Linked DNA regions of Homo sapiens. The protein of the gene in region 2 interacts with the protein of the main gene of each other region in a pairwise test. Each region holds a gene or a part of one and is shown on either strand. Other genes may lie near its edges. The genes, in order: ADCY4, ESRRG, RINT1 and POMC.

What was found.
Region 1: the proteins of ESRRG (region 2) and ADCY4 interact in binary tests that used the Homo sapiens proteins (3 or more experiments, as listed by UniProt).
Region 3: the proteins of ESRRG (region 2) and RINT1 interact in binary tests that used the Homo sapiens proteins (3 or more experiments, as listed by UniProt).
Region 4: the proteins of ESRRG (region 2) and POMC interact in binary tests that used the Homo sapiens proteins (3 or more experiments, as listed by UniProt).

Annotation. Positions count from the first base shown.
Region 1 is NC_000014.9:24,324,604-24,333,043, forward strand, and holds part of ADCY4 (adenylate cyclase type 4), read right to left. Parts: intron 8,386-8,440; coding exon 8,188-8,385; intron 8,081-8,187; coding exon 7,919-8,080; intron 7,335-7,918; coding exon 7,185-7,334; intron 6,754-7,184; coding exon 6,605-6,753; intron 6,527-6,604; coding exon 6,415-6,526; intron 5,693-6,414; coding exon 5,565-5,692; intron 5,416-5,564; coding exon 5,257-5,415; intron 4,931-5,256; coding exon 4,798-4,930; intron 4,632-4,797; coding exon 4,458-4,631; intron 1,740-4,457; coding exon 1,696-1,739; intron 1,563-1,695; coding exon 1,476-1,562; intron 1,285-1,475; coding exon 1,215-1,284; intron 872-1,214; coding exon 774-871; intron 1-773. UniProt on the Homo sapiens protein: Catalyzes the formation of the signaling molecule cAMP in response to G-protein signaling.
Region 2 is NC_000001.11:216,502,419-216,510,858, forward strand, and holds the end of ESRRG (estrogen-related receptor gamma), read right to left. Parts: intron 4,766-8,440; coding exon 4,521-4,765; 3' UTR 833-4,520; downstream 1-832. UniProt on the Homo sapiens protein: Orphan receptor that acts as a transcription activator in the absence of bound ligand. Binds specifically to an estrogen response element and activates reporter genes controlled by estrogen response elements.
Region 3 is NC_000007.14:105,541,513-105,549,952, reverse strand, and holds part of RINT1 (RAD50-interacting protein 1), read right to left. Parts: intron 8,227-8,440; exon of another isoform or gene 8,098-8,226; intron 7,546-8,097; coding exon 7,304-7,545; intron 3,044-7,303; coding exon 2,870-3,043; intron 2,770-2,869; coding exon 2,620-2,769; intron 1,405-2,619; exon of another isoform or gene 1,400-1,404; coding exon 1,243-1,399; intron 1,125-1,242; exon of another isoform or gene 986-1,124; intron 1-985. UniProt on the Homo sapiens protein: Involved in regulation of membrane traffic between the Golgi and the endoplasmic reticulum (ER); the function is proposed to depend on its association in the NRZ complex which is believed to play a role in SNARE assembly at the ER.
Region 4 is NC_000002.12:25,159,864-25,166,524, forward strand, and holds the end of POMC (pro-opiomelanocortin preproprotein), read right to left. Parts: intron 5,823-6,661; exon of another isoform or gene 5,773-5,822; intron 4,960-5,772; exon of another isoform or gene 4,930-4,959; 5' UTR 4,910-4,929; coding exon 4,778-4,909; intron 1,890-4,777; coding exon 1,218-1,889; 3' UTR 997-1,217; downstream 1-996.

The DNA.
Region 1 (8,440 bases), on a different chromosome or scaffold from region 2:
ACCCATATGGTGGGGAGTGGGGGCTCACAAGAATGGCTGAGGCTACGGCAGACTGATCTCTGGGCCTTTAGCCCAAAGCTCTTTAACTTGGCTGAGTTTTTTTTTTTTCTTTTTTTTTGAGGCGGAGTCTCGCTCTGTTGCCCTGGCTGGAGTGCAGTGGTGTGATCTTGGCTCACTGCAAACTCCGCCTCCCGGGTTTGAGCGATTCTCCTGCCTCAGCCTCCCGAGTAGCTGGGATTACAGGCGCCTGCCATCTCACCCAGCAAATTTTTGTATTTTTAGTAGAGATGGGGTTTCACCATGTTGGCCAGGCTAGTCTTTCACTCCTGACCTCAGGTGATCCACCTGCCTCAGCCTCCCAGAGTGCTGGGATTACAGGCGTGAGCCATCACACCCGGCCACCTGGCTGAGTTAAGAACAAGTCCTCATCCCTCCTAGCAGTGGACTAGGAATGAGGGCCTACTTTCTAAGCTCATGCATTTGCTGCCAGATTTGGGTTTCTCAATGGAAACAAACTGGCCTTCATGGGGATGTTGTTAGAATCAAAAGAGATGCTCATGGGAAAATGCTAGGGCTGTGTAGAAAGTCCACAGGATCTACAAGGTTAAGATAAGGGCCGTGATTATCATTTTCCCCAGAACACATGTTTCCTCTGTGGGTAAGTGCCTGAAGCTAAGGGGAAGGGGTGAAGGAAGAAAGTGTGGCCCGGGGTCATGAGGGCAAGGTGATCCGCTTATGACAGCCAGGGCCTCCTTTGCCTGGGGCACTCTCACCTGTTTGTCACTAGCATCTGGATGATGAAGTTGGAGAGAAAAACCAGGAAGGTGCAGGCTTCATAGTATTTGAAGGCGGGGATTGCAGAGAGTCGGTACTGAAAGTGAGAGGGCCAGAGGTGGAGACAGGGTCCAGTGCTACCCATCACCTTGAAGGCATCACTCCCAGGCAAGGGGTGGGCTCCTCAGCCTCACCGCCCAGGCTCCAGTTCAGTTCCATGTAGACCCTACCAGTTCTCCAAGGAGTTACCCTCCTTCCTCCCCCTACCATCTAGTAGCTCAGTCTACAGAGTGACTTTCCTTTAGAGAGAGGCACAAGCTCCTCACCCCTAGGATCACAAACTGAGCAGACTTGGGGAGGAGACCCAAGGGCTGACCCCTCCCCAGCACCAAGGAACTAAAGTTGGGAAGTTGTTTGGTGCCACCCACACCACAGCCCACCTCTTTCTCCATCTCCTTCTCTCTGAAGTACAGTGTCAGTGGGTTGAAGTCCTTCGACTGCTTCCACTGTCTGGTGGGAGGTGGGAGGGTGGGTGAAAGCACCAGAGAACAGAGGGCACAGAAGGGCAGGAAGAGGGCAGAGTGAGGGCAAGAGGGGGTGGTCAGGCGAGTCTTCCCTCCAGCCCCTCAGGGAGCACCATCCCTTCTCCACCATATGACCTCAGGGCCTGCGGCCCCCCCAGCCCTCTTTGTTCTCCGTACTTCTGCGAGTTGAGCTGCTCAATGACCTGGAAGAACTTGGCATCCCCGGTGTCCAGTTCATCATCTAGTCCCCGGGGGGTACGGCTCCTGCACAGTGAGAGCCAAGTCCATCACCACAGAGACCCTCAGAGCGTCTGGGCAAAGCAGGAGCAGACCCCCAGGGAGGATGGAGGGGGTCATCCAGACAGCCCCACTGGCAAAGACTTTGAGGCCTCCTCACCGATCCAGGCTCCACTGGGTGCTGAAGGAAGCCAGGGTCTTCTCCTGTTGGGAGAGCACAGGGGGAGGTGGGCATGGTGGGTGTTTTCCCTGCAGTGAGGTAGACCATGAGCCACACTGCATGCTCTATACATGTCTTTGACCTTGGGCATTTCACTGGGCTCTTTCTTTTGCCTCTAATGACCTCTCTGTCTCCCAAATCCCACCTGCCCTTGAAGGGGAGGTTTGAATCTCCTTAAAGTTTCCCCCTGACTCTCTAGACTCCCAGGATCTTTGTGTGTGTGTGTGTGTGTGTGTGTGTGTGTGTGTGTGTGTGTGACTGAATCTTGCTCTGTCACCAGGCTGGAGTGCAATGGCATGATCTCGGCTCACCACAACTTCCACCTCCCAGGTTCAACCGATTTTCCTGCCTCAGCCTTCCAGGTGGCTGGGATTACAGGCATGTGCCACCACGCCCAGCTAATTTTTGCATTTTTAGTAGAGATGGGGTTTCACCATGTTGGTCAGGCTGGTCTCAAACTGCTGACCTTAGGTGATCCGCCTGCCTCGGCTTCTCAAAGTGCTGGGATTATAGGCATGAGCCACCGTACCTGGCTGGATTTTTTTTTTTTTTTTTGCAACGGAGTTTCGCTCTTGTTGCCCAGGCTGGAGTGCATTGGTGCAATCTCAGCTCACTGCAACCTCCGCCTTCCAGGTTCAAGCAATTCTCTTGCCTCAGCCTCCTGAGTAGCTGGGATTGCAGGCACGCACCACCACGCCTGGCTGATTTTTGTATTTTTAGTAGAGATGGGGTTTCGCCATGTTGGCCGGGCTGGTCTCAAACTACTGACCTCAAGCTATCCATCTGCCTCATCCTCCCAAAGTACTGGGATTACAGGTGTGAGCCACCGTGCCTGGCAAGATTTCTAATATTTGACTGAGCCCCTGGAACTTCAGGGGCTAAGTGGATTTCTGTGCTAGTGAAGGTCCTGCCTCAGGAGACACCCTTGAACAAAGGGTCCTGCTCTTCCACCCTAATACTCCCTAGCCTGCACACCAGTGGAAAGCGGCAGGAGGTCTAGCATGGGCCCCGGCAGGCATTCCTGCTATGTAATTGTACCTAACACCATCTCACAGTCCCTGGGCTTGTAGCAGTCCCCACACACCACTCCACCCATGCTGGAGGTCTCATCCTGCAACAGTCAGCTGAACCTCAGCTTCTTCCTTCCTCTTCCTCCTGCCAGCTTAACCCTCTGACCTCTCCCCTACCTCATGTTAACACTTGGAATTAAGTACTTCCTGCAACCACTGCTGCCAGTGTCCTTCCCCCACTCCCCAGTGTTGGGGGGTTGAAGAAGAGAGCATGCAGTTTCAGGAATTGAGTTAAACAGAGACATTTCCTGGTGCTATGGGTGCACAGCCCTAGAATCAGAGACAGGAGGAAGTGGGGGGTCCAACTGCCTTTGTGGTGTCAGGGGAAGGCACTCTCCTGAGTAGAGGCTGGGGAGTTATGGACATGGTGTGTGGGTGGCAAGCCACCCAGGCACCGAGGCAAGAGACAGAGGACACGAGCAGTTCCAGTATAATAAAATATAAAACAAGAATTGTTATACCAGATATAGATCTTAGATATGATTATATATGAGTATCATTAATCATTAGTGGGTAGCAATTACTTTTTATTCCAATATTATGATAATCCTCACTCAATAATCATAGCCTAGGAAAAACCAGGCCATACAGAGATAGGAGCTGAGGGGACATAGTGAGAAGTGACCAGAAGACAGGAGTGCGAGCCTTCTGTTATGCCTGGACAGGGCCACCAGAGGGCTCCTTGGTCTAGCGGTGACGCCAGCATCTGGGAAGACGCCCGTCACCAAGCGGATCATGGTCCAGCGGTAGCAAAAGGTGTCAAGAAACAACACCAGCTACTTAGCAGACCGGGAAAGCGGGGTGGGGGGGGGGGTCTCCCTTTCCCTGGGGGAGTTTAGAGAAGACTCTGCTCCTCCACCTCTTGTGGAGGCCCTGACATCAGTCAGGCTCACCCACAGTTATCCGGAGGCCTAACCGTCTCCCTGTGATGCTGTGCTTCAGTGGTCACGCTCCTAGTCCACCTTCATGTTCCATCCTGTACACCTGGCTCTGCCTTCCAGATAGCAGTAGTAAATTAGTGAAAATACTAATAGTCCCTGATATGCAGAAATAATGGTGTAAGCTGTCTTTCTCTTTGTCTCCTCTCCCTCTCTGCCTCGGCTGCCAGGCAGGGAAGGGCCCCCTGTCCAGTGGATATGTGACCCACATGACCTTACCTATCATTGGAGGTGACTCACATTCTTTACCTTGCCCCTTCTGCCTTGTATCCAATAAATAACAGCGCAGCCCGACATTCGGGGCCACTACCGGTCTCCGCGCATTGGTGGTAGTGGTCCCCCGGGCCCAGCTGCCTTTTCTCTTATCTCTTTGTCTTGTGTCTTTATTTCTACACTCTCTCGTCGTCGCACACAGGGAGAGACCCACCGACCCTGTGGGGCTGGTCCCTACAATGGTGTCTGTAGGGATCTTGTATCTTCTCTGAGGTGAGCTGGAGGGCTCTTTCTCTAGAAGGAGGGGCAAGGAAGGGCCTGAACCAGTGACTGGGGTGACAAGACAGTTCGGGACTTTGGGATGTCACAAATCATTAAGTGGCTCACTGGTGGTGGGGGCAGGGAAGGCTGCCAGTGGGGCCTGAGGATACTGGGGGTGGATTTAACTAAGCTCTGGGGCTCAGGATGAAGGTGCACATACCGGGAGAGGGGTGGAGGTGGACACAGGGCTGTCTCCGTGGCTCAGGTGGGCAAAAGGCTTGGCTGCGCCCCAGGACTCCAGGTAACGGGTCATCAGCAGTGATGGACGCATCTTGAGGCCCTCAAGCGAGGACAGCAAGCCTCCTGCAGTGCCCTTCTCATCCTCCTCCTCTGCCTGGGGCACATAAGGGCTGACAGTAAAGACCACAGACACTTCCTCCTTCTCCCTCCACCCCCCACTAGGACCCAGGAACTCAATCTCTGGCACAGAAGAGATCAGGCCTGTTGGCTGTGGGGTGGTTTGTGTAGGCCAGCCCATGGGGTCTGGGCTGGGCTTTTACCCGTGGATCGATGACCAGATAGGTAGGCTCCCCTAGCTCCCGAAGGTAGGGGTCCCGATGCTCCATGCCTGCGTCCTCCACAGCATAAGCCCCTGCCAGCAGGGCCAGGGTAGCCCCTGTGATGTGCACTCGCCTGGAAGGAGGGAGGCAGTAGGGGTCAGCAGGGAGGGCCTTCAAATCTCCTATTTCCTGCCCCATCACCCCCATGGCTCCTAGAACTGACAAACATCTCATGTCTTTTAAAGATCGTTCCTGGATGTCTGACTTCAAGAAAGAGCCTGTGTTACAGGAGGTGCCTCCCAGCTCCCCTCCCTGCACCCTAGGATCTCCCAAGCCCCATATGGGACTTATCTTAAGGTACTCATCTTGTGCTTATCTTAAGGAACTAATGAAAGGATGGCAGCCTGTGGTAGGCCTGGTTGGCCTTCTGCTGTAGCTGCCTAGGGCCCTAGGTCTCACCCTGGTACACCGCCTGCCTCCATGTGGTTAGCCAGTGTGACATCATGTGACCAAACGTCGTACTGCCACTTCTGCAGCCCGATGACTCCACACAGTACGCTGCCTGAGTGCACGCCCACACGCATGTTGATGTCCACGCCAGTGGCTGCCCGCAGTTTCCTGAGCAGTGTGTGTGTGGGACAATCTGAGTCCTACCCTCAGCCCTGCCTGTGAGACACCCCAGATTCTCACAAAGAGGACTTCTGTCAGCTGCCTGCTGCCCCCCACATCCACCCTCAGCATTCCTCTTGACCACCGCCTGAGCTGACCTGATGGCCCGGCACATGTCCAGGCCCATGCGCACGCAGTTGATGGCATGGTCTGGCAGTGAGAGTGGCAGCCCAGAGACACAGTAGTAACAGTCCCCCAGGATCTTGATCCGCATGCATTCATGCTCCTGGGAGTGTGTATGTGGGTGTGCAGAGGAACCTGGTTAGAGGTCAGAAGGGTAGGAGGGAGTTGGGAAAAGTGGGCAGCGAGCGGGGTATTCCTGAAGAACTTCCAAGGTGGGGTAGTGTCTAGATCAGATCTAGGGACTCCTTTCACTTGATATGGGGCTAACTGTCTTTCATACAGATCTCTTTCTCAGAAGAGTTTCCCCAAGGGCTGGATGGCTGTGGCTCTTTCCACTTTTGGCATGTTGAAGGGGGTACCCAGAGTTGAGTACGTGGTAGTGGTCTCAGGATTGAGAGGTTGGGGGGAATCCAAGAATTGGTTGCTTGGAGGCATCCCTGGAGTCTAAGCAGGTTGCTGGGCTGAGGTTGCATAGGGCAGAAATTTCTCTTGGAAGGGCCTCCTAAGGTTAGAATATCAGAACGTCTCTATAGATTTGGTTGTAGTGTCCAGAGACACATATGTGGGGGCTCTGAGCATGTTTGGGGCATTGTACTTGGGACATCTGTGGCGATATTGAGGGATCTCTGTAGGTTTGAGGTGTGTGGTGAGCAGCTTCATGACTGGGAATGTTTGAGAGGGTTTCCTCCTTCCACTGGAATATCTGGGGGCCTGCATGCACTGAAGTGGGCCTGGGATCTTATAAGGTGGGAGTTTCCCTTGGAAGGGGCTACCCAGGATGGGATGTTTGAGGGTCCCTGGGTGGGGAGGGAAGTCTTCTCTGACCTTGGCAATCTGGTCGAACTTGCCAAAGAGCTCATTGAGCATGAGCACCAGCTCCTTAGGGGAACACTCGCTGGCCAGCCGCGTGAAGCCCACGATGTCAGCATACAGCACGCTGCATAGGGCAGACTGTGTCAGCAGGGCCAGGGTCTTAGCCCACAGGCCCCTCCCCTCCAGCCATTCTTCCTCATACCTGACTCCCTGGTGCCTCTTGACATAGAGGCTGTGGAAATTGTTAGTGCTCTCTGGCCGTGACCCCTGTCCTGCCTGCAGCCGTGCCATGATCTCTGCCTTCATCTCTCGGGCCAGGTAGGCAGGAAGGATGGACAAGAGAAGGTGTTCCTGGAAGAGGTCACCATGAACACCAACTCTTCTGCACCCTAAAGCCAGGAGGCCCTGTCCCCCAAATCACTCAGGAGCCCACACTGCCCATCCTAGGTGCTCCCCAGGGTGCTCCCCCAGGTCCTCCCGCTGCACACAGCAGGGCCCCAGCACTCCATCCTACACTGATCACCTTTAGTGACTAAACTCCCAGTATCAACACCTGAATGGGAGTTCACTTAATATCATAATGCTCTAAAGTGCTTTTTATAAGCTTTGGTTTGTTTGAGCCTCACAACCTTCTAAGATGGGCAATACCCACATTTTATACAAAAGAGGAAACAGGTCAAGAAACCTGCCCAGAGTCACTCAACTTGTGGAGGAGCCCCGTTATGTAATCTAAGCAACTCCTCCCTCGGAGCGCTGCTCTGACCTTCCTAGGCCCGGCTGACCTGGTGCTTCTTCTCGGTGTCCAGCCGCCGGCGTGAGTGCAGGGAGCTGAGTGCCTCCCGGAACGTGGCCCGCAGGGCGCGCTCCATCAGCGCCTTGTGGTACACTCCTGCCACGTTCCCGCACAGGAACAGCACTGCGTTTGCTGCCAACTGTGGGTGAAGGCCAGCCTCAGAGGGCGCGGGACCCGGGTGCTTGTCGTGTGTAGTTGGAGTTGGTCTCAAAGACTGGCTGGGGAAGACTGGGCTTTACAGTGAGGGACCTAACTATTGTGGGACAAGTGGTGCCACACTGTGGCATCCCTAGGGACGTTTCCCTTCCCAGATGCTCCCTCCTCCAGACTCTCGGCTGCTTCACCAACACGACCTCTTAGGTCTGGAAACGTTTGCAGGTAGGTTTCTTGTGCTTGGAATACCACTCCACTGTCGCTACCCACTCCCATCGCACAAAACTTTTTTTTTTTTTTTTTCATTCTCTGTCAAGGTTTCATTAACCACATCTGTTGTCCCCGGGGTAAACCACGACACGACTCCCTTCCGTGTGGCCTGGATCCCTCTTCTGGTAACAGCAGGCATTGCATCACACTGTTGTACCAGCTCTGCGAAAGCACGGTTGGGTATCCTGCGCCCAGCGTTGCACCTTGACTTGGAGTCACAGCTCAACAACCCCCTAAAAGGAGCCTACTAGCACGTGGCAGAGCCGTCCTGAGCGCAGCCTGTGCTACTTGCGTGCTCACCTGCGGCAGCAGTGCAGGCCGTGAGTCCGGCTGTGGCCCAAGATACAGCCCGAGGACCAGCAGATGCGAGAGTGAGGAGGCGAGGCCCGCGACGGCGGCGTCCCGCATGCCCAAGGGCAGCATGGCATACGCCGTGAAGATGACGAAGAGAAAATAGGACACCTGGGGGCGGGGCGCGGGAAGCCGAAGGCCCAAGTGGGGCTATTCAAGGCCTGGTGAGGGATCGAAGCCCGGGCCGTCCCCGCTGCCCCGCCTGCCGCCCCTCTCACCTGGTCCCAGGCGCTCACCACGCCCCCGGTGAACAGGAAGGCGTGGCCTAGCGCTAGCAGCGCGACCCATACCAAGCCGGACAGGGGACGCGTCCAGCGCTGCAGTCGCTGCTCCCGGGAAGCGAGGCCCAGCAGCAGCGAGAAGCCGCCCAGCGCGCACAGCACAGTGGTCAGGAAGCTCGGGTCTGAGGTCAGCTCCTGTGGGCAGGGGTGTGTGAGGCAAGATTGTGACAGGGAGAAGGAACGAACCTGA
Region 2 (8,440 bases):
CCTAAAACCAATTCAGTTTAGTGGCCTTTGTGTCATCAGCTTGCTTCTCTAGAGAACCAACCACCTCTGAAAGGTGAGAAATACGGTGGGCAAACACAATGACAAAACACCCTCAAGATAGGCAGAGAAGCCAAGAAAGCACATATTAGCACTTCGGTGATGGCTCCAGGAGGGTCCAGTGGAAGCTACAACTTGACCCTGAGCAGCAAGGGCTGTAACCTCTCTGAGTGTAAAAGGCAAGAGGAGGCCATTTGCTGTCAGCAGTGCTGTTTAACCCTCTTGAATTCGAAGACAGCTCCCCCTCCTAATTCACACGGATCTCTAAGCTCTGCTTGTTGACTTCTCATTCAGGAAATCTGGTCAGCAGCTCTACTGCTGCTCCACATAGCCTGCAGCTTGCCAAAGAGCTCGGAGCAAGCGCATGATTTAATTGTTGATAGAGGGAAATAATGGGTATCTCTAGCAGGCTTTAATATGATCTTAAAATAGGGGGAGAGTTTTCTGTTATGACATTGACATAGAGGCGATGATTTTGAGTAATGCAGGATGATGTGGAGATGCTTTAAGATTAAATAAGAGCTATATAAAGGCTTGTCAGAATGAATTCTAATGTGCCATGAGACACTTTGCATACTCTTAAATATGCAAAATGTCTCTTGGCACCCTAGAATTCATTCTGACAAGCCTTTATATAGCACTTATTTAAACTCCGACTTTATTTTTAGGGAACAGGTACTCAGAGATACTCTTTGAATGGAAGCAACAAAGGGCAGTGTTTATCAATTTGGTTCTTTAGCGGGGGGAAAAAAAGAAACACAATACAAAAGAGCAGTCAAAAGTGGAAGCTTGTTTAATATTGCTCTACCATCATCCTGAAAGGCATAATAATTTGAGTTACACATCTGAACTGATTGGAGTTACAGAATCATATCTCCTTTTTGCATTTAACAATATATACAATATAAAATAAATACATTTACACAAATGGACATTTGCTGGAGCACACAGTATGGTACACATCACAAAAATATACAATTGATTGCTTTACAGATGTGAAGCCCATCTACAGCTATAGACATGGTTTTATTATTATTATTATTATTTTTACTACTGGCTATAATGCAACTCCTGGATTATTATAAGCAGTTTAAATTTTTTGTCCTTTTACGATCTTTGCACATAAGACTGCCATAAAATGTTTTCCTAGGCAGGTAAACAGAGACGCTTAAATAATTAAAATACAATCACCAACACCCATTTTCTCTTCTATAAGAAAAATAGCAGTTTTAAATTTTTTATATCTTTTATGTTATCATTTAAATGCAAAATAGTGGAATAAATACAACAATCTGATCTGATTGAAACACAAGTGTAACTACAAGGAGTCACACAATCATATTGCTTTAAATAAGAACGAACCTAAAAGAAGCAAAATTAAAATTAAAATCATATGGCTAAAACATACACCTTTATAACTTTCCAAAACTTCACATTAAGTAAATGGTCTTGCTTGAAACTTGAGAAGACTTCCCTCTAGTGAGGTTTAAGATGAGCATTTACCCTAAAGCCCGTGCAGTTCTTTTTAAATCCACGTTTTAGTTTTATTTCCTATTTGTGAGATACTTACTCTTTTGTAATGCTGAGAGTTACTTAAACTGAAAACTAAAAAATTGTATCTCATTCTTTGAACATATCTCCATCTCAGGTTTTCAGTTGGTTGGCTCTTACTTCTGAAGCCCAAGTACTTTAATGTGATACAGTGAAAACAATGTATATATTGTATATATTTTATTTATATATAGTGTAGTTGAATAGTAGCAACTTAAACCCTGCACAAACTTTCTGGAAAATAATCTTTTTAAACACTTACATATATAAATAATCTTATAGAATCAGCACCTTTTTTCCCAGGAGTTGTATTTTCTGTTGTTATTTTTAAAGGGATGTGCCAATTTCTGAACTCCTATCACAGCTATAAATTTCAAGTTATTGACCATCTGAATGAATTGCTAATGATGATTTATCTAGAATCACACTACAGTCACTTCTCTACTGAGAAACCACAATCTACAATATAGTCCCATATAGCTAATGATAGATACACAGTATTCCTAGCACTGGGTTGATGTTTCATCAACCCAAGGTATTTTGTTTAAAGCACACAAAGTAGCAATAGTTTTGGAAACGAATCTGCACCAAAAAGTTTTGCAACAACACAGAGCGAGTTAATAACAACATCTGAGAGATGATTGAGTGAAAGCCATATATACAGCATTTAAAAATTAGACTTATCTATATTCTTGAAATATTCAAAGTTTTATTTCTAAGCTATACATTGGTATTCTATAATAAACCATTAGAGAAATTATTCCTTGTTTTGAAAATATTATTATGATTTTGATGTGTATCTGTTCATAATGAATACTTGTTTGGAGTTTCAATCTCTTAATTATTATTAGGAAGAACCTTATTACTGGTAAGGAATAGAATATACTACTGTAGTCTCCTGAGGAATTGTACATCCAATATTGTCTCTAATTCTACCCTGTGTCTAAAAGCACACACCACAAGAATCCAAACACCACAAGAACAAGACAACAGTCTTTGAATGCAACATAAAATTCAGAAAAGCACAGCAAACATGAAACATTGAAAAGCTGAACTACATTTCTTTTGTTTGTTAGGATTACAATTTTAATTACATCTGTGTACATAGAATAAGACTGTTCACATAATACAGGGAGCAGCTACTAACACTGGTCCATTGGTATAGCATTTGATGGAGGTTACTGTTTATTGGTTATTCAGCGACTGTAGATTTCGGGGCATCTAATTGATTTCTTCATTAGATTACACCTCTTAACAGTCTGGAACCTGACTTGACTTTCATGCTGTGACAATACTGGTTGAAAAGCACATATATTGGCTTAGCTCTTGGTAAAAACTGCAGATTAATTTAAACGAACATTCCTAAATGAATAAACTTATATGGATTAGGTTTTAGAATTTGGTCAGGCATTTTCTGTCTTTGATGATTTTTTTTTTTAATTCTGGCATTTGCCTTATTGCCTCTTAAATGAATACTGGCTCACAGCTCCTTCTGAGGCAAGGTCTGTGACTTTGCAAACAGGCAGTATCACATTCCTAACCACCATGGCAGCTAGAAATCATATGGCAATTGTACCTCCCAAGTAGAGAGGTGCACTCCTGACAATTCTACGGATCTATATCTCATGTGCAGTGCTTATATATGTGACTACTCAGAGTCACTGTAGGTGTAATCTCATCCTTTGTGTCAGTGAACATTTAGGTAAACTGGAGCTCATGTTAAGAAATTGATGTTTGGGACCAGACTGGCACACAACATAAATTGCATCCGTGATAATATGCACCTTCCCTTCAACTATTGCTTGAGTAAGTTAAATTCCCATATTAATAAATGGCTGAAAAGTGGTAAAGCTGGTACAAAAAAATCTCCATTTGTAAGAAGAAACAAAACATTTTTAAAAATCTTCCTTCAGGATTCATTTGTCCTTCATTATTGTTCGTAATTGTTCAAAGCCAGCACAAAATTGCAGTATTCTTATTTCTCTTTAGTATTGCATGAATGAATAAAGCTTAAACTATTCCCTGAAAAAGTTACATAGTAGCTAAACTAACAAATACCTGGAAGACTTGAAAAAACAATTAAGGAATCAAATGGCTGTAACTGATCTAGATGGAAAAGCAATGATAAGAAGCAGCCGATGCAACGTTGCTTAAGTTGTCTAATTAGAGGCTGCTCCCATGAAATCTAATACTGCACTCAGTCAATTTGTATATGTTGCACTGTACTTTTAGGAACGTTGGTTCTCTCTCTTTGATTCCTTAGTCATTGGGGACAGTATGGTTCACAATAAGTTCACTGGCATCCATATTATGGATCTCCATCCTTTGGCAGGGCTGGCTTCCATCTCTCTTCAGTTAGAGACCTCTTTTAAAAGTTCAGCAGCAGAAGGAAGAAAAAGAAAGATGGAAAGAAGGTCAAGAGGAAAGGAAAGGAAAGGGAAAAGGAAAGGGAAAAAGGAAAGAAAGGGAAAGGAAAGGGGGAAGGGAGGATTTTTTTTTAAACTAAAGCTATTTCAAATTTAGAAAAAAGGGGAAGGATGAGAAAAGAGAGGAATGAGAGTAGGTAAAGAAAAGAAAGAAGGCAGGCAGACGGGAAGAAAATAAAGGAGAATGGGAACTAGGAATGAAAGAAGCAAAGAAATAAGGGAGGTGAAAGAAGAAAAGGAGAAAAAATAAAGAGAAAGAGAAATGTGGGAAGAAAGAGGAAAGAAGATGATGGAGAAAGTAGAAAGAAACTCATCAGGAACCTATGGAGGAATCTGAAAGCTGCTTCATAGTCTTGCTGCTAAATTATCAGTGCAGTCTGTTGATTTTTGATGTTGTTAACTAAACTCTAAGTTTCTTCGACATCACTCTTGGGTTTATTTTCCCTTTTTCAACATGAAGGATGGGAAGGCCCAGGGAGCTTTTAGTCAGACCTTGGCCTCCAACATTTCCAAAAAAAGTTTGTGCATTGGGACTTTGCCTTCTAGTTTGATGTTGTAGAAATGCTGCACGGCCTTGGTAGAGGTCTGCCTCAGGAGTGGCAGTGTCATCAGCATCTTGCCAGCTCGACGAGGGTCTTCCATGTGCTGGCCAGCTTCATAATCCTGCAGCGCTTCATGTAAGACATCCTGAAGCTTCTGAACGGCTTCAACATCTTCTATGTGCATGGAGTCTGTGCAATGAAGCAAAAGATATGAGTAATTATAATAATAATAGCAAACCTATGTAGACTAGAGTTATAAAATTAGTTATTAATTTAATTATTTTTGAACTTCTCTGAGCTTGAACCTATGATTTGTTCAGAGTCTTGCATTTCTACAATCTCTATTTCTTTCCAAATTTCCCTACATAATTTCTAATACTAGCTTAGAAAATGGGAATTATTAGAAAAGATCTATGATTTAAAATGTGTATTTTTCTTTCTCAGGCTGAGCAAGAGAAGGCTTTCTTTTAACAGATTACAGTCTTGACTATTTTATTCATTGTCTCATCCAGGTATATATTCATTCACTCAATAAACAACCACGGAAGGCCATCTATTGAAAGTATTATCTTAGTGCTGTGTGGGGGAAGGTTGTTTAAAATTCTGATCTTGCCTGGAAAAGCCAATATTTCCCAAACAGGGGAAAAAATTGTTGACTAAGATTCTAAGAACTCCATGTGACTACATTGAATCTAGCACTATACAGAAATCACAATAAATTATTTATCCTTTCAGGATGTTTAATGTTCTAGTATCAGTTGATTAAAGCATCCTTACAGAGTCTACTTCCCTGATGAAAAACAAATGGTGTCTTCAGATCACTGAGTTCTGAAATATTTTTCGCATTTGTAAAGGTGAACTTTGCCCTTAAATGAATAATTTGAAAATCTAATTCAATCAAGCAAAGAAAGGGTTAACAAGGTTGCCAAATTATTCTTGTGAGAAATGTGAGATGTGGGGAAAAAATAAAAGTTACAGCTCCAGCTCTAAAGCAGACACTTAATTATATACAAGTTTGAATCATTTAGCACGTTTTATTGATTCTGATGACAGTTTATCTGTTAATTACACATAATGGAGTCTTTGGGGGATTCTTCATGTTTAATAATTCTAGTTCTCTGAGAATGCTGAGCTCTAAGATATATGTAGTTAGCCTAATCTTTCATACAATTCAAACATAGATCACATGAACAAAAAGAGAGGGAATGTAATTTAAAATCAAGTGGCTAAATATATAATAAAAATGAAATATGGCAAACTAATTAAAAGATAACCAGTAGCATGTCTTAAAAATTTATTTGTATTTTGTTTAGTGTTTTTTTCACTTACATTGTCATTTTGAATCATTCCACCATATCACTGGTGAACTGACCACTATTTACATTAGGTAGTTTAATGACACCTCTTTAAAAAATTTTTGAATAATCTGGAATAAAGTTGCTTATAAGTATTTACTGCTCAAGACTCAATTTCTGCCTGGCAGAGCAAAAAGAAGGAATTTTTCCAAGTGGGAAATAGCATTGATAGTGGTTCCCTGGAGCGGGACTCAAGTCACTCCCCAACATACGCCTGGCCTTTCCCTGTGGATTGTTTCTACCCAGCTTCTCTCCAGTCTGGTTCCTCTCAGCATGGCAATCTCATCCACCTCCTATGGTGCTGTCTCTTAGAAACAAACACACATAATTTCTAAAGTTGTCTAGGGGTTGGTAATCTTAGGGACAGAAAAACATTCATAGAGATGATGGCAACATGATCTGATATTCTTTCTCTCTATTTTTGCACTTAAATGCTACCTGAAGGAAAAATGGGAGGTATGGGGAAACACTATGGTGAGTCTCTAGATACACAAAAGACTGCAATATGGACCTTGTGCATAAGGGAACAGAGATGAGTTGGATTTTCCCAACTTATCCTGGGTCTAATAATTAGCTCTCTACATGAAAACAGAGTAATAGATGGAAGGAGAAAATGGGAATTACACTCTGCAGTGACAAAACAAACGAAATAACTATTTTCCAACTAGACCAAAAACACACCAGAATAAAAATAATACATTTACCATTTATTAAGCACCTATTTCAGGTGAACATGGCCTCATTTTACCTCCCCAAGCCCTAGAAGACACGTGGCACTGGTAATATGTGTCAGACACAGGTTTAAATTCAGGATTCTTCAAATCAATAATGCTGCTAGAATGTAGAACACTAAATTTGCATTCCCTTAAAAATTGGGATGAATTGTCCTCTAAACACATCCTATTCAAACTCCTATCTTCATCAGCTGTCTTCTTTACAACATTCTTAATGAAGACATTGCCAGTTGTATGAAAAGTATGTAGAGTATTCTCCTTGATAAGAGGCAAAACTAATTATTATGAATTTCCTCTTTAAATTTTCCTAAATCTGTCTCCAAATTCTATCATTTGGTCCTGTTTCTAATTACTAGAACAATACAGGATAAATTTCCTTTTTCTACATGGCATATCTTTAAGTGCTTGAAGTCAGCTGCACAGTTACCTCGGCCCTACCCATAGTCTTGCCTTTCCCACTACTCTTGCCCAGCAGGAGATATATTATAGGATGTCATGGGAAATGAGACAAGAACAAATAGCAGAGAGATATGCTCACAAACAGCAATTAAGATTTCAAACTATTCTTTCAAGGCTGTGATTTAGCATGAGAGATTTAAAAATGATTTAATCAAATTACTATGATAATTTAACTTCCCATTTATAGAAAAGATTCTAACTCATTTTAGCTTTACCCATTCTCGGATCTGCTAATACTTTAAATGCAAACTCACTAAATTTGAACTATTTAATTAGACAATGATTCAGCTGGCAGACTGCTGAAGAAAATATTAATCTCCATTAGGGATCCTAGTTCAAGTTCTGGATCTGTGGTTTTAATCTCTGTTTTGTTCTTTTGGTTAAATTTACACGTTGACACCAGGCTCAATAGAACTGGCATTAATGTATGTAATTTATTTTGTTTTCATTGTTCATGCTGGTTTCTTTTTAACTATGCTTTAAAGGAAATATTCCTAGTATTTGTGCTAATAGGAACCAGCTAAACTTAATGGATATCATAAGTTTATGAACTAACTAGACAGGACTAGGCTACATATTAAAAACAATGGGCGAGCTCTTAAAAATCTTGGATACTGGGCCCAAGTCTAGATCTATGAAGTAAGAGACCAGAACTAGGACATCAGCATTGCTGAAAATCTAGGTAGTTCTACTGCCAAGCCAGGATTAAGAACTACTACTGAATTAGACAATAAGACAAGCAAATACTATTCTAAAAGAATAAATATTTCAAAAGATAACCAGAGTGTATATGAAACACATATTATTGCCCACATATTAAGTCTAACACCTAATAATAAAATAGAACTTTATCAAAACTTCCAATATTTTACTCTGTGAAAGAGATCCTAAAAAAATGTGTCTAGTTCAGATCATTTACTTTGGGAAGATAGCTAAATATCATCATCCTTGCAGCTGCAAATTGAATAAGACAGAGCCACTGAAAAAGAAGATTTTATTTTTATATCTTCCCTTGAATAAAATACTGCCCTTCTCTATGTTAGAAAATATTAATCATTGTGGGCCAGGTGCGGTGGCTCACGCCTGTAATCCAAGCACTTTGGGAGGCCGAGGCAGGCAGATCACGAGGTCAGGAGATCGAGACCATCCTGGCTAACACCGTGAAACCCCGTCTCTACTAAAAATACAAAAAATTAGCCGGGCGTAGTGGTGGGCGCCTGCAGTCCCAGCTACTCGGGAGGCTGAGGCATGAACCCGGGAGGCGGAGATGGCAGTGAGCTGAGATCGCGCCACTGCACTCCAGCCTGGGCGACAGA
Region 3 (8,440 bases), on a different chromosome or scaffold from region 2:
TAGTTGAAAATTCCTGTATGTAAGAGCACAATTTCTACTCCAAATTTTAAACTCCTGCAAGGCTTAATAATCAAATGTTTGCTAATGTACTCCCAACAAATTTCAATAATATGACTTAAGTCAATAAACTCATAAATTTACAATGCCATATATATTTAAAACCTAGCACTTCAATAATATGTAAAATGATGAGTATTACAAAGAACTGATGGCCTATATTTTTTGAAATAGCATTTGAAAATAATTTTAATATTATTTTCTTATGGTTTTTATTTTCAAAAAGTAAATCAAGAAAAAAATTGCTGGCCAGGCGTGGCAGCTCATGCCTGTAATCCCAGCACTTTGGGAGGCCGAGGTGGGTGGATCAGCTGAGGTCAGAAGTTCAAGACCAGACTGGTCAACATGGTGAAACCCCGTCTCACCTAAATATACAAAAATTAGCTGGGCGTGGTGGTGGGCACCTGTAATCCCAGCTACTCAAGAGGCTGAGGCAGGAGAATCGCTTGAACGCGGGAGGCAGAGGTTGCAGTGAGCCGAGATCACACCATTGCGCTCCAGCCTGGGCAACAAGAGTGAAACTTCGTTCCAAAAAAAAAAAATTGCTAGTCTGCATTACAAAAACTACGCATGTCTTATACAGGTTTAAGAGCAGAAATACCAAGTACATGCCAGGCGCAGTGGCTCACTCCTGTAATCCCAGCACTTTGGGAGGCTAAGTCAGGTGGATCACCTGAGGTCAGGAGTTCCAGACCAGCCTGACCAATATGGTGAAACCCATCTCTACTAAAATTACAAAAATTAGTCCAGTGTGGTGACATGTGCCTGTAGTCCCAGCTACTTGGGAGGCTGAGGCAGGAGAATCGCTTGAACCTGGGAGGTGGAGGTTGCAGTGAGCAGAGATTGTGCCACTGCACTCCAGCCTGGGTGACAGAGCGAGACTCCAACTCACAAAAAAAAAAAAAGAAAAGAAATACCAAGTGCTTACTATTTGCTTTGCTTTGTTTTGCAATGATAACTCAGCAATATCTGATGCCCAAGAGCGGAAATACCATTTTTCCTACAGTATATGAACACAAGTCCTCAATTATATGTATGAACAGCAGTAACAAAACAGGAATGTAGCCCTTTAGAAAAAAAACAGAAATGTGAAGAGAGTCAGATTTTAACTTAAACCAGCAAAGGTATAGAAACTCTAACATTTGTTACCAATAAAAACCAAGGACAAGAGCTGGCAAAACACACCTTGCTTAACACATTAGTCTGCCGGTTCCCTCTGAAGTGATACCTGAACCTCTTCTGAAGAGGAGTCAGCATAACCTGGATGGGCAGGATGACAGAAGGGGAGGCAGGAAGAGAGTATTTTTCTGGGAGTTGCTTTGGCTCAGTAAGTAATTCATCTCTGACATAATCAAGTCAAGGAAAAAGAATCAAAAGCATACCTAATATACACACACATATGTATGTATACACACACAATAAATTTTTCCAACAAATGTATCAGATACTCAGTAGAGTTAATTATGATGCAAATAATATGTAACCTAATTTTATATTGAATAAACATACAGTTAATTCTTTATATTGAATATACATTCAGTTAAAATGCACAAAAAGCCAGGCATGATGATAGTGAATCATGCCTGTAATCCCAGCACTTTGGGAGGCTGAAGCAGGCTAATCACTTGGGCCACTTCACAGGAATTTGAGACGTGCCTAGGCAATACGGCAAAACCCTATCTCTACAAAAAACAACAAAAATTAGCGGGGCATGGTGGCACGTGCCTGTAGTCCCAGCTACACAGGAAGAAGAGGTGGGAGAATCAACTGAGCCTGGGTGGTCAAGGCTGCAGTGAGCCATGACTGCACCACTGCACTTCAGCCTGGGTGACAAAGTGAGACCATGTCTTTAAAAAAAGCACAAAAATGAGCCAGGTGCAGTGGCTCTCACCTGTAATCCCAGCACTTTGGGAAGCTGAGGCGGGTGGATCACCTGAGGTCAGGAGTTCGAGGCCAGCCTGACCAACATGGAAAAACCCCGTCTCTACTAAAAATACAAAATTAGCTGGGCATAGTGGTGCACGCCTGTAATCCCAGCTACTCGGGAGGCTGAGGCAGGAGAATCGCTTGAACCCGGGAGGTGGAGGCTGTGGTGAGCCGAGATCATGAGATCACGCCACTTCATTCCAGCCTGGGCAACAAGAGCGAAACTCCATCTCAAAAAAAAAAAAAAAAAAGCACAAAAATGGTATTAGAATTAATCTATAAATCTTTCCTAAAATAGTAACAAAAAAAATTCAAGTATCATTTGATTAAATTCACGCTATGACACTAAAGGTTTCCTCCCAATTGCCCATTTGTTCTGTTGCCCCAAGAGACCTTTTTGTGCTATGAACTTGGATCAGTCATGTATCCCGGAACTCTTCCTTACAGCCCTCACACCTACAAGCAATTCACTTTGCAAGAGTACAGTCCACCACTCAGTGGACATTTACAGACCAAGTCCAAACACAGGATTCTTATTTGGCTTTCTTGGCCACTTTGAAAAAGTTTTACTCTCTAGCCACAAACCCATTCTAGAAAAAAGAAATTTTAGTAAGTTTTCAGCTGCAACAAAGATACGAGGTTTGTAGTTTCAAAAGCTGACAAAACAGTGTCTCCAGGTAACTGTATATCTCCGGGGCACTGGCAGGTCGACTTAAGCCAACAGTTTGTGATTGAGGGGGTGCGATGAATGGCCAATGAAGCTGTGCTAAAATTTCCTCAAAATCACTGCAATGGAAAAGTAACACATACATTTCAGTACATCACCAAATGATCACCAAATACCCATCGGAAAGCAATTACCACAAAATATGGGTAAATTCCCTACCTTGTAAGCTTGTCCTTGAGAATTTTATGCCAGAATTTAACTGTGGCTCTCATGAAACCAAGAAGATGAGTACAAGATGATTCCTGAAGTTTAATGTCAAGTTCTGCCATAGACACTAGAGTGGAGGCTGCCTCCGGTACATTATTGGTCATCAGATATTGCTGAATGTTATCACTGTAAACAAAGTAAAGCAAATTTTTTTTTCTTTTGAGACAGAGTCTCACTCTGTTGCCCAGGTTGGAGTGCAGTGGCATGATTTGGCTCAATGCAAATTCTGTGTCCCAGGTTCAAGTGATTCTCCCGCCTCAGCCTCCACAGTAGCTGGGATTACAGGCATGCGCCCCCATGCCTGGCTAAATTTTTTGTATTTTTAGTAGAGACAGGGTTTCACCATGTTGGCCAAGCTGGTCTTGAACTCCTGACCTCAAGTGATCCGACCGCCTCGGCCTCCCAAAGTGCTGGGATTAGAGGCGTGAGTCACCGTGCCCAGCCGAAAGCAAATTTAAAGAACGGATTGCTCAGAATAATTTCAAATTCGGAAAAAGTGCTTCTTCTTCATGTTTTATATAAAGTTACATCCAAGGAAGAATGAAGCACCACCCTGAGGTAGCCTTTGTTTTTTAACAAAGCACCACCCTGAGGCCTTTTACCAAGGCCTCTCTGGGAGCCTAGAGTCCTCTACTTCTGCATTCTTCTAAGAGCAGCAGCCTGCAGCCTATGTTCAAGACCTCTCCCGGGACCTTTCCCTTCCTACTCCTCCTGACAGACCTGTTTTGTGTCATATTCCTTTGGGCACCACTCATTTCTGATAAATCTGCCTTTTACAAAGTCTTCAGTATCTTAATCCAAGGGAATAATGTGGTAGTATCTGGTAAAGTCAAGTATGATGGTCTTCAATTGTTACATACTTTGCCCAGCTGAACTTGATTTCCCACTTCAAAGAAATATAATTCCAGGCGGGGCTTGGTGGCTCAACCCTGTAATCCCAGCACTTTGGGAGGCCAACATGGGTGGATCTCCGGAGGTCAGGAGTTTGAGACCAGCCTGGCCAACTTGGTGAAACGCCCCCCGCCCCCCCTTCCCCATCCCCCATCTCTACTAAAAATATAAAAACTAGCCAGGCATGGTGGTGGGCACCTGTAATCCCAGCTACTCGGGAGGCTGAGGCAGGAGAACTGCTTGAACCCGGGAGGCGGAGGTTGCAGTGAGCCAAGATCATGCCACTGCACTCTAGCCTGGCAACAGAGTGAGACTCCGTCTCAAAGAAAAAGAGGCCAGGCGTGGTGGCCTCTTTGGGAGGCCAACATGGGTGGATCACCGGAGGTCAGGAGTTCGAGACCAGCCTGGCCAACTTGGTGAAACCCTTCCCGTCTCTACTAAAAATATAAAAACTAGCCAGGCGTGGTCATGGGCACCTGTAATCCCAGCTACTCAGGAGGCTGAGGCAGGAGAATTGCTTGAACCCAGAAGACAGAGGTTGCAGTGAGCTGACAGGGTGCCGCTGCACTCCAGCCTCAGCAACAGAGTAAGACTCCATCTCAAAAAAAAAAAAATATATATATATATATACAAATATTACAGAAGAATTTCAAATGTACAAACAGAATATGAGTACTGCCTTTTTTTTTTTTTTAAAAGAGTCTCACTCTGTCACCTAGGCTGCAGTGCAGTGGTACAATCACGGCTCATTGCAATCTTAACCTCTCGGGGCTCAAGCGATCCTCCTACCTCAGCCTCCCGAGTAGCTGGGACTATGGGTGCTCACCACCAAGCCTGGCTGATTTTTTTTTTTTTAAACAGAGATGGGGTTTTGCCATGTTGCCCAGACTGGTCACAGAATTCAGAGCTCAAGCGATCTGCCCACCTCAGCCTCTCAAAGTGCTAGGACTACGGCATGAGCCACCATGCCCGGCAGGAGTACTGCTTTTAAGGAAGGAATGAAATAGATTTCCTCACAACACTAAAGTATGAATGACATTTACAACATAGGAAAAGCTAGAGAAACAAGGTTCACTCAGAGTGATAGTGCTATACTATAGTATCCAAGAAACAGAGCTAATGTAAGGATGCTAATTCTAGCAAGAAGAAACTACTTGAAAAAAAGACAATGTACATCAGAATAAAAATAGGCCATTATAAAAAAATTTAGAGATGAAGAAAATCCCAGAAGCTCTAAAGGAAAGCTGGAAATGGAGAGATTATCATAAAAGACCTCAGGGAAATAACACATTATTAAAGACAGAAAAATAACTGTGCTCTACCTGCTTATGAATTTGATCCCTATTTCTAATATAAATCCCTCGGCATATTTCCCTTATAAACAATTCAGATATCTGAAGAGTTTATCAAGGCCAGGTGCAGTGGCTCACACCTGTAATCCCAGCACTTTGGGAGGCCAAGGCAGGCAGATGACTTGAGGTCAGGAGTTCAAGACCAGCCTAGCCAACATAGTGAAACCCTATCTCTACTAAAAATACAAAAATTAGCTGGGCGTGGTGGCATACACCTGTAGTCCTAGCTACTCGGGAGGCCAAGGCAGGAGAATCGCTTGAACCCGGGAGGTGGAGGTTGCAGTGAGCTGAGATTGTGCCACTGCACTCCAGCCTGGGCAACAGAGGAAGATTCCAACTCAAAAAAAAATAAAAAGAAAATTAAAATAAATAAAATAAATGTTAAAAAAAAGAAGAAAAAAGAAAAGTTTATCAATAACCATGGACCTAATTTAGTTAATCTATTACTTTGGCTACTACAAGAGTGAGGTTTTCAAATAACGTATTTTACTTAATAAAGTTATTAACATTGCCCCTTACTGATATTTCCTTTCTGAGGGACAAGGAGAAATGCAGTAAAATAAAGCAAGGTTTAAAATTCCTTCACTGCAAATAATTTATCTAAACAAGAATGAGATGTTCTAAACCACTTTATATGTAAAACTCCTCATACATGCAAAACAAAGTTTTTTTGTTTTTTTTGTTTTTTTTTTGAGACGGAGTTTCGCTCTTGCTGCCTAGGCTGCAGTGCAATGGCACAACCTCAGCTCACTGCAACCTCTGCCTCCCGAGTCCAAGCAATTCCCCTGCCTCAGCCTCCCAAGTAGCTGGGATTACAGGCACGCGCCACCATGCCTGGCTAATTTCTTTTTTTTTTTTGTATTTTTAGTAGAGACGGGGTTTCACCATGTTGGTCAGGCTGGTCTCAAACTCCTGACCTCGTGATCTGCCCGCCTCGGCCTCCCAAAGTGCTGGGATTACAGGTGTGAGCCACTGCACCTGGCCTAAAAACAAAGATTTCTATATTATATTGATATGTAAAATTCTTTAAAATTTTGGGAAATATATGCAAGAAAAAGAAATACATAAAACATATCCATAACAAAAGTAATATCAGGTTTATTAACTATGATACATTTGAAACAGGACATTAAGACTCCCAGAAGACTTTTCTCCCTCAGGTTTTCCAGGCAAAATTAATGGTTGCTGACAGCTCTGCAGCAAGTACTAGTTAAAACAATGCAAGGATAGTGGGGACCTTATCATCTACTAATCTAGGTGGAAATGTTACTTTGGGTTGTCTGAAAGGCAAAGCTAGATACAATTAACTACCAGTGATAGGTATTCAACTCAAAAAGAACTAAGGTCAAGCCTTACTTCCTTTTTTGTTTTTCCTACCCAGAGGTAGCAGAACTCTTGTTATTCATCCAAGAATACTGTGTAGCTCTTATGATTCCCACTGAAAAATATTCAAATTATACAAAAGCAATCCATTTCATTAACTGACCAGTTCTAAAAATTAAATAAGAATAACTATTACCAAACTTTGTGTTTTATTAATTTGGCATTACAAAGAATAGTTTTTATCATGTGTTCATAATCCAACTGTAAGACTTAAAAGTTTGGCCGGACGCGGTAGCTCATGCCTGTAATCCCAGCACTTCCAGCGGCCGAGGCTGGCGGACAGTGAGGTCAAGAGATCGAGACCATCCTGGCTAACATGGTGAAACCCCGTCTCTACTAAAAATACCAAAAAAAAAAATTAGCCAGGCATGGTGGCGGGCGCCTGTAGTCCCAGCTACTCGGGAGGCTGAGGCAGGAGAATGGCATGAACCCGGGAGGTGTAGCTTGCAGTGAGCCGAGATGGCACCACTGCACTCCAGCTGGGCGACAGAGCGAGACTCCATCTCAAAAAAAAAAAACTTAAAAGTTTAACGTACTTACATTACCTTCTTTCAAATGCTAATTAAGCTCCCTGAAAAGCTTATGTTCACTCACAATAAAGGAAAAGAATCATTATCATAATGCTATTTTCACAACAACTGGTAAAATTATATTATTATAATCTTTAATTAACTCAATTATTTAATGGCACACATGTACTCTCTAAGACAGAAGCCTCAAAGGAAAATAGTAATTGTGAGAACAAAGAGGCCCATTTTACCTTAGTTCTTCAATTTGTGAAATCCATTTAAGGTAAGCAAGATGACGTTCGATCTCTTCAATCTGGCTAATCATGGTTCCAAGATCGTCCATCCAAGGTTGCGCAGTCAGCAAATGGCTGTTAATGGCGCTGAAGAGATGAGTTTCCTGCTCCAGAAACTGATTAAGAAATTGCTTTGATTCTTCTGCATTTTTTAAGGCACTTCGAATTCTTTTAGGAATTTCTGATGAAATTGTAAGTACCTGACCATAATTTTAAAAAAGAAAGAAAGAAAGAACAGCAGCAATCAGATAAAATTTTCATAATTTTTTTTTTGAGAGGGGATCTCACGCTGTTGCCCAGGCTGGAGTGCAGTGGTACCATCATAGCTCACTGCAGCCTGGACTTCCTGGGCTCAACCAATCCTCCCACCTCAACCTCCCCAGTAGTTGGGACTACACATATGCACCACTACACCTGGCTTTTCTTTTTTTTTTTTCTTTAAATAGAAATAAGGTCTCACTATGTTGCCCAGGCTGTATGTAACCTTTTTTATTAGTTCGTTCCCTTCAAAATACACATTTTTTGTAACAGAACTGAAAATCATCCATCAAAACCTTCAAAAAAAGGTTTGATTTCTTCATCCTGTACTAATCAATCCAAACATAACATGCTGTTTTATATACACACAAATAGCAGGAAGAAGTATGCCTTTGTGTTGAAAACAATAAGTGAAACAAAAAAATAAAAATAAAATAAAAAATATATGCATACATACATATACACATACATGTAGAGAAAGGGACTTAACTCACTGGCTCCAGTAAGCATCTAGAGGTCTGCCTCCATAGGCTCAGCAGAGGATCCAGCTAGAGAAAACTTATTTTATTTTTTTGAGACAGAGTTTCGTTCTGTCACCCAGGCTGGAGTGCAGTGGCGTGATCTCAGCTCACTGCAACCTCCACCTCCCGGGGTCAAGTGATTCTCCTGCCTCAGCCTCCTAAATAGCAGGAATTATAGACACGTGCCATCACGCTCGGCTAATTTTTGTATTTTTAGTAGAGACGGGGTTTCACCACGTTGGTCAGGCTGATCTCGAACTCCTGACCTCATGATCCGCCCACCCCAGCCTCCCAGAGTGCTGGGATTACAGGCATA
Region 4 (6,661 bases), on a different chromosome or scaffold from region 2:
GTCTACAAGGGCCCTGCCCACCATGCTTAGTAGTTTGGAATTGACAGAAATTGGGGTGGGGGCACTGTTTTGACTCTTGAGCCTGGGACTGTGGGAAAAAGCAAGATTTTGTGTAAACTAACGTGAAGAATTCGTATATGATGGGCTGGGGAGAGCAGCTGGAAACTAGGAGACCAGTTGGTTGGGAAGCTGTTATCAGAGAGGCCTGGGGGAAGTACTAAGGATGAGAAGGGCTGGAGCTGAAACACGCGGGGAGGGAGGAGCCTGGGCACGGCAGGAGGGGTCAGAGGGCCTGAGTCAGGGCTTAAGCCCTAGGGGCTGGAAGAAGCAACTGCGTAGAGTATGTTGTATTAAACAGATGTGTGTCTCCATGAGTGTGTGTGTGTGAGAGAGACCGTATGTCTGAGCGTATCTGTGAGTAGCCTGGGAGTGAAATTGGAACTGATACTAACCCTCAGCTCTCACACTTAGCTTCTATGATAAAAAGAAGATTATGTCCATTTTCTCCTTTAATCTTCACAATAACCCTCATACTGGGAAGGGAGGGGTAGATGAAAGAACTAAATTTTGGAGAAGTTCAGAGACTTGCCTAAGGTCCCATGGATTGCTACGAGCAGTTCCCCGGAGACATTACCAAGACTTCTCACCTGACAGTCCAGAGCACTCCCAGGCGTGGGTAGGCCTCAACCTGTCCAACTGGCTTTTGGAGGTGGACCGGAGCCGGGGAGCCCCTGAGCGCCCGGGGTCACTCTTGCAGGAATCCTGCCTTTACACGTGTGCTAGCTGAGCAGTCTCCCACTCAGTGGAGTGTGTGGAAAATACGGCCATCCTAGAGGTGCTGGAGCCACCCTGTGCCTTCACCCAAACTATCTGATCCCTCGAAGATCCATTTGGGGGTGGGGGCAGGAAGCACATTTTCCTTTCACGCTCACTAAGTCCTGTGAAATATCCTACCGCATGGAAACCACTGTGCTCCTCCGATCCATGCTGCTGTTATTTGACGGCTACGTATTTTTACTTTATTCACACAGTTTACATTCAAAGTCAGAGGTGGATGTGAAATTTGAAAGGTTTTATTTCCTAACTACAGGCAGCTTTAAGAGGCTGATTATCTGCCACGACCCCCCAGGCTGGGAGGCGGCAGCAGGGCAGGGGAGAGCAAGGGGCTTTGGGGTCGACCTCCTGGGGGAGGGTAGCCCTGGGGCCCCGCTGTGCCCTCACTCGCCCTTCTTGTAGGCGTTCTTGATGATGGCGTTTTTGAACAGCGTCACCAGGGGCGTCTGGCTCTTCTCGGAGGTCATGAAACCGCCGTAGCGCTTGTCCTTGGGCGGGCTGCCCCAGCGGAAGTGCTCCATCCTGTAGGGGCCCTCGTCCTTCTTCTCGGCCGCCACCAGCAGGCTGTGCTCCAGGTCGGCCTGGGCCCCTGCGCCGTCATCGGCAGGGCCGTCGGGGCCATCTCCCTCCCGGAGTCGCTGGCCAGTCAGCTCCCTCTTGAACTCCAGGGGGAAGGCCTCGGCCGACTCGTCCTCGGCGCCGTTAGGGTACACCTTCACTGGGCGCCGCTTCTTGCCCACCGGCTTGCCCCAGCGGAAGTGCTCCATGGAGTAGGAGCGCTTGCCCTCGCGCGGGCCCGGCTTGGCACCATCGCTGCGGGGCTCGGGGCCGCCCTCAGGCAGCGGGCCGCAGTCTTCGCCCGCTGAGACGTCCTCGCGCTTCTGCCCTGCGCCGCTGCTGCCGCTGCTGCTGCTGTTGCGGCGGCCGAATCGGTCCCAGCGGAAGTGGCCCATGACGTACTTCCGGGGGTTCTCGGTCAGAGGCTGCTCGTCGCCATTTCCCGGGAACATGGGAGTCTCGGCCGAGAGGTCGGGCTTGCAGGCCCGGATGCACTCCTGGGGGAAGACGCGAGGGCATGAGGGCAGCCCGTGCCCCGCACCCCGGCCCGGCTGCCGCGCCCGTCACTGCGCCTAGGCCCTGGCCGCCCTCGCCACGTGCCGAGGACACAGGGCACAGTGTCGGGCGTGTCAAGCGTCGAGGCCTCCCTACAGAGCAGGTCTGCCCACCTGCTTTCTTGGCACTCGTGGGCATCTAAGATCTTGCCACTGCCTCTTTTGTCCCATCCCCTTCATGCTTCTGCCTGGCAACTGCAACACACTTCCCATCCCATTCCATGGTTTGTCTAGCCATCTAGCCACCCCTAGCTTTTGTGAACAGGACCAAAGTCTTACTGTTATATGCCTGACATAAAGGAGTGGCTCCAAGAAAGGCAGACGGGTGGTAGTTGTTGGCACTTAATGAATATTGAGGGCCGGGCACGGTGGCTCACACCTATAATCCCAGCACTTTGGGAGGCCAAGGCAGGCAGATCACATGAGGTCAGGAGTTCAAGACCAGCCTGGCCAACTATGGTGAAATACCATCTCTAGTATAAATAAATAAATAAGCTGGGTGTGGTGGCGGGCGCCTGTAATCCCAGCTACTCTGGAGCCTGAGGCAGGAGAACCGCTTGAACCTGGGAGGTAGAGGTTGCAGTGAGCCAAGATCACACCACTGCACTCCACACTCCAGCCAGGGCAACAGAGCAAGACTCCGTCTCAAAAAAATAAATAAATAAATAAAAAGAATATTGAATAAATACATATGGTTTAATTCAAGTCCAGGAGGGGAGTGGGGCTGAAATTTGGGGGATAATCTCTCCAGGTGATAGAAGTCTGGCTACTAGGGCCCATATTTTTAAACATATTTTTAATAATGCCTCAACCTGTGTGAACCTGGGAGGTGGAGCTTGCAGTGAGGGGAGATCGCGCCACTGCACTCCAGCCTGGGTGATAGAGCGAGACTCCGTCTCAAAAAAATAAATAAATAAACAAAAAATAAAAAATAATGCCTCAACCTTACCTCAGTGATGAAAAACCTACTTTATGCCCTACCCCAGCTCCATCTCTGCACTAAGCCTCCAAAACTGCACCTTGGTTCTTTCACGACTTCTGAGCTGATTTCTGAGAGATCCCCCAGTGAGCTCTGGGGCAAGCTTATTTCCCTGTAATCTCATTCTGACTGGAGGGAGGGGTGGAAAGCTAGCGTTATTTCCATTGCACCGTCTGTGGAACCTGTGTCTCTGCTCCTTGTCCCTAGAGGACTCTATTGTGGTACATATTAGCTTAGGAAAATGGCTGCATAGGCTGCAGCCTTGAGTTTTCAGTGATAAAAAGATGAAAAGCTCACTGGCTGCTCTCTTTCTTGGGAATAGCAAAGGAGAAAATAAAAGGATCCTACCCACTCTGTTGAGCTGGACATTGCCTACTCCAGGTGTTCAGAATTACAACTCTGTGGAACGTTAACAATGGAAAAAACTAATTTACACTCCCCTCCCGTGGACAGATAGTGAAACAGGAGACTCAGAGAGGTGATAGGACCTGGTCAAGGTCCCACACCTCAAAACTGGGTCTAGAACCCATGGGTCCTGACTGTGTCCAGTGCACCCTCCCTGGTGAGCTGTGCTGTGGGTGTCTCAAGTCAAGAGACTCTTGGGTCTTTCCAAACTGGAACTCACAGAATCCCCTGGGCTCTTTGTTTCTATTTTATATTACACATGAAAACTGGTCTGTGTCTTTGAGGACCTCATTCTATCTTCACCTTAACTCAGCTTCTGCATTGACAAAATACACAGAATGTAGTTATGTACATTCCACCCTCAGCACCTGCCAGGTGATGGCAACAAGATTAAAATTCCGGTCACTGACACTAACAGTATGGGGGTTTGTTTGTTTGTTTGTTTCATTTTGTTTTGTTTTGAGACAAGGTCTCATTCTGTTACCCAGACTGGAGTGCAATGGTGTGATCATAGCTTACTGTGTCGTCAGACTCCTGGCCTCAAGTGAACCTCCCAAGTAGCTAGGACTACAGGCACATGCCACCACATCTGGCTAACTTTTTTATTTTTTGTAGAAGTGGAGGTCTCACTATGTTGCCCAGGCTTGTCTTGAATCCCTGGGCTCAAGCAATCCTCCCACCTTAGCATCTAAAAGTGCTGGGATTACAGCCATGAGCCATCTCGCCTGGTCTCAGTGTGCCTTTTAATCTCTGGATTTGGCATCATTACTCATTTATGCCCCCCAACACACACACACACACACCCCCCACAGGCAGATACATACACCCTGTGGTGACCTGGAGGGAGCTCCTGCCTGATGCAAAGGGCCTTCACATGCTCTGGAAAGACTGTAGAGGAACACAGCAGAAGGCCAGTCCTCCAGAATAAACATGAGACATTTGGCACCAATTAAAGAAAAAAAAAAAAGGGCCCCTGGTTTTTCCTTCTTCCAGAGATGATTTGAAGAACTACCTGGCTGGTTTTGCAACCGGTAGTAGATAAAAGGGTAAGAAATATGGAATGAAAATGGCAAGTGATATGAGCTTCTTAAAAAGGAATAGTTTGGGAAGCTAAAGATTTAAAGTACAGAATAGATTGAGGGGTCCATTATTGCTCTTATAGCACCATCTCTAGCTTAAAGGGTTCAAGGTCTCCATAAAAGATGGGGCAAGAAGTAAGGATAACCAAGCAGAAATTGTGGACTCAACCCCTCTCCCTGAAGCTGCTTCCTTCCCTGATTTCTTCTCCCATTTCTTACTTCACTGCAAAGTTTTGCTCCTGCCCTGGATTGAATCACGCCTATCACTGGGAATGAATTTCCCTTTCCCCACACCCTTTTCTTTTGAGCTTTCCCAGCTCCAGTCCCATCTAATGTCTAAGCCAAGATGGCAGTCATGGCCCACGTACCAGCAGGTTGCTTTCCGTGGTGAGGTCCTGACACTGGCTGCTCTCCAGGCACCAGCCACGCACTTCCATGGAGGCCTGAAGCAGCAAGGCCAGCAACAGGGCCCCCGAGCGGCTGCAGCACGATCTCGGCATCTTCCAGGCAGGCTGAGGCTCTGCAGAAGCAAACAAGATTGGTGGGACCCCTGCAAGGAGCAAAACAATGTTGGCCACTCACCAGGAAGGACCTTGAGCCAACATTAACAACACACTCTCTTGTGGAGTTAAAGGCATTTTAAGGACAGCAGCAATGCTGAGAAAGGAGGTGTGCAGTACAGCGGTGGTATAAGTTGTGATAAGGAGGAGGGAATGGTGGGTAAACTGTGACCATTTCCCTGTTATCTTCTATTTAAACGAGACCCCTAAAAAGGTTAAGGCTGGAAGCTATTTTGGGGATTGCTTGGTTCAGCCCTTCCCATGAGAGATGGGAAAATTGAAGCCCAAAGAGAGACAATTACTTTAATGTCCATGACAAGGTAAGGCTAAGCTCCTAACAGAGAACTTTCCTATTTCACTACATTAAGCTGTAGTTCTAACATGCAAGATCTCAGGAGTGAAAGTAACTTGGGAAAAACGGAGGACCCTGAAACTCCTGCTCAAGATGGTCTTTTCCCTTTTTATTCCACCAGGATCCTATCATTCCTCTGAAACTCTATTTCCTATGAATATTAGGTTGACAGAAAAGCAAATAAAACCACTGGCCAATTTAGGCAGCATTTCGAGCAGCCTGATTTGATGTCCTGCACACAAATTACTCTGGTGATCACTATTACCCAGACTCCAGTAACTTTGGAGAGCTTCGTTTTTAAAGCAGATCTCAGTTCTTTGAAATCTGGCTCATCTTCTGGACACGTCACGTGTCAGATGTCTTGTTCTCTAGAGCTCTCAAATGTGGTCTGAAATGGCAGGATTTGAAGAGGATGCAGATGTGGAGGGGAAAGAGACCAGAAGGGAATTACCTCCTGGTGGAACAGCCACTGCAGATACTTTTGGAGAATCCAGCAAGTGCCTGTGGGCAGAAGCTGAGGTCAAGACACCAGGGGACAGTAAGGAGGGGGCATCCATGGTGCCCCTAGCCCCCTGTACCCACCCCTCTCTCCAGCACTACCCTCGCACTGCCAAATTTCCCTTAACCAGGTGGGCCCCCTGAAGCCACCTCGAGGCCGGAGATCAGCTCACCGCCAACCCTACAATCATTTTGGATTTCAGAAGATCTTCTCAGCCAGCTGCTAGAAAGAAATGTAATTAGATGAGAAAAGTAATTCACATTAAAGCGTGGATGACTAAGTGTCTTGTCACTCCTAATGAACGCTGGCATTTTAAAATAAGTTTGCCTAAAATAAATCTCTCATTTGGGGAGGCGTGGGCCAAATCTTTTTTATATAGGGGAGGCTTTGGAAGTGAAAGTCCTCTGAAGCGCTGATTTCTACTTCAGGAGGCCACTTCCTTCTCTCTACCCCACCCTCGCCCTATTCCCCAGGCGCTGGGCCTGCACGGTGCTAGCTTCTGAAGGGTTGCCGGGCAAGGCTGAGCATTTTCAGAGCAGCCATTAGATGGCACTGGCAGCCAGTGACTGGCCCAGGTGCGCTTCGGCTAAAGGGGCAACTGAACGAGCTTTGGTCAACCTTGGTGTCCTCTCCTGGCTCCAAGGGACAGGCTGTTCCCATTGTACCCTGCCAGTGATCTATTCAAGTACACAGCCAGAACTTGGTGGACCAGGCAATTAGATTAAAGCTCCAAGTTGACCATAGCACATTTAGCTCTGAAAAATGCCCAGATGTTACAGTCACAGAAAAATGGTAGTTACGTATGTCACCAAATGCAAATGTAAAGTAACATATTAGTAAA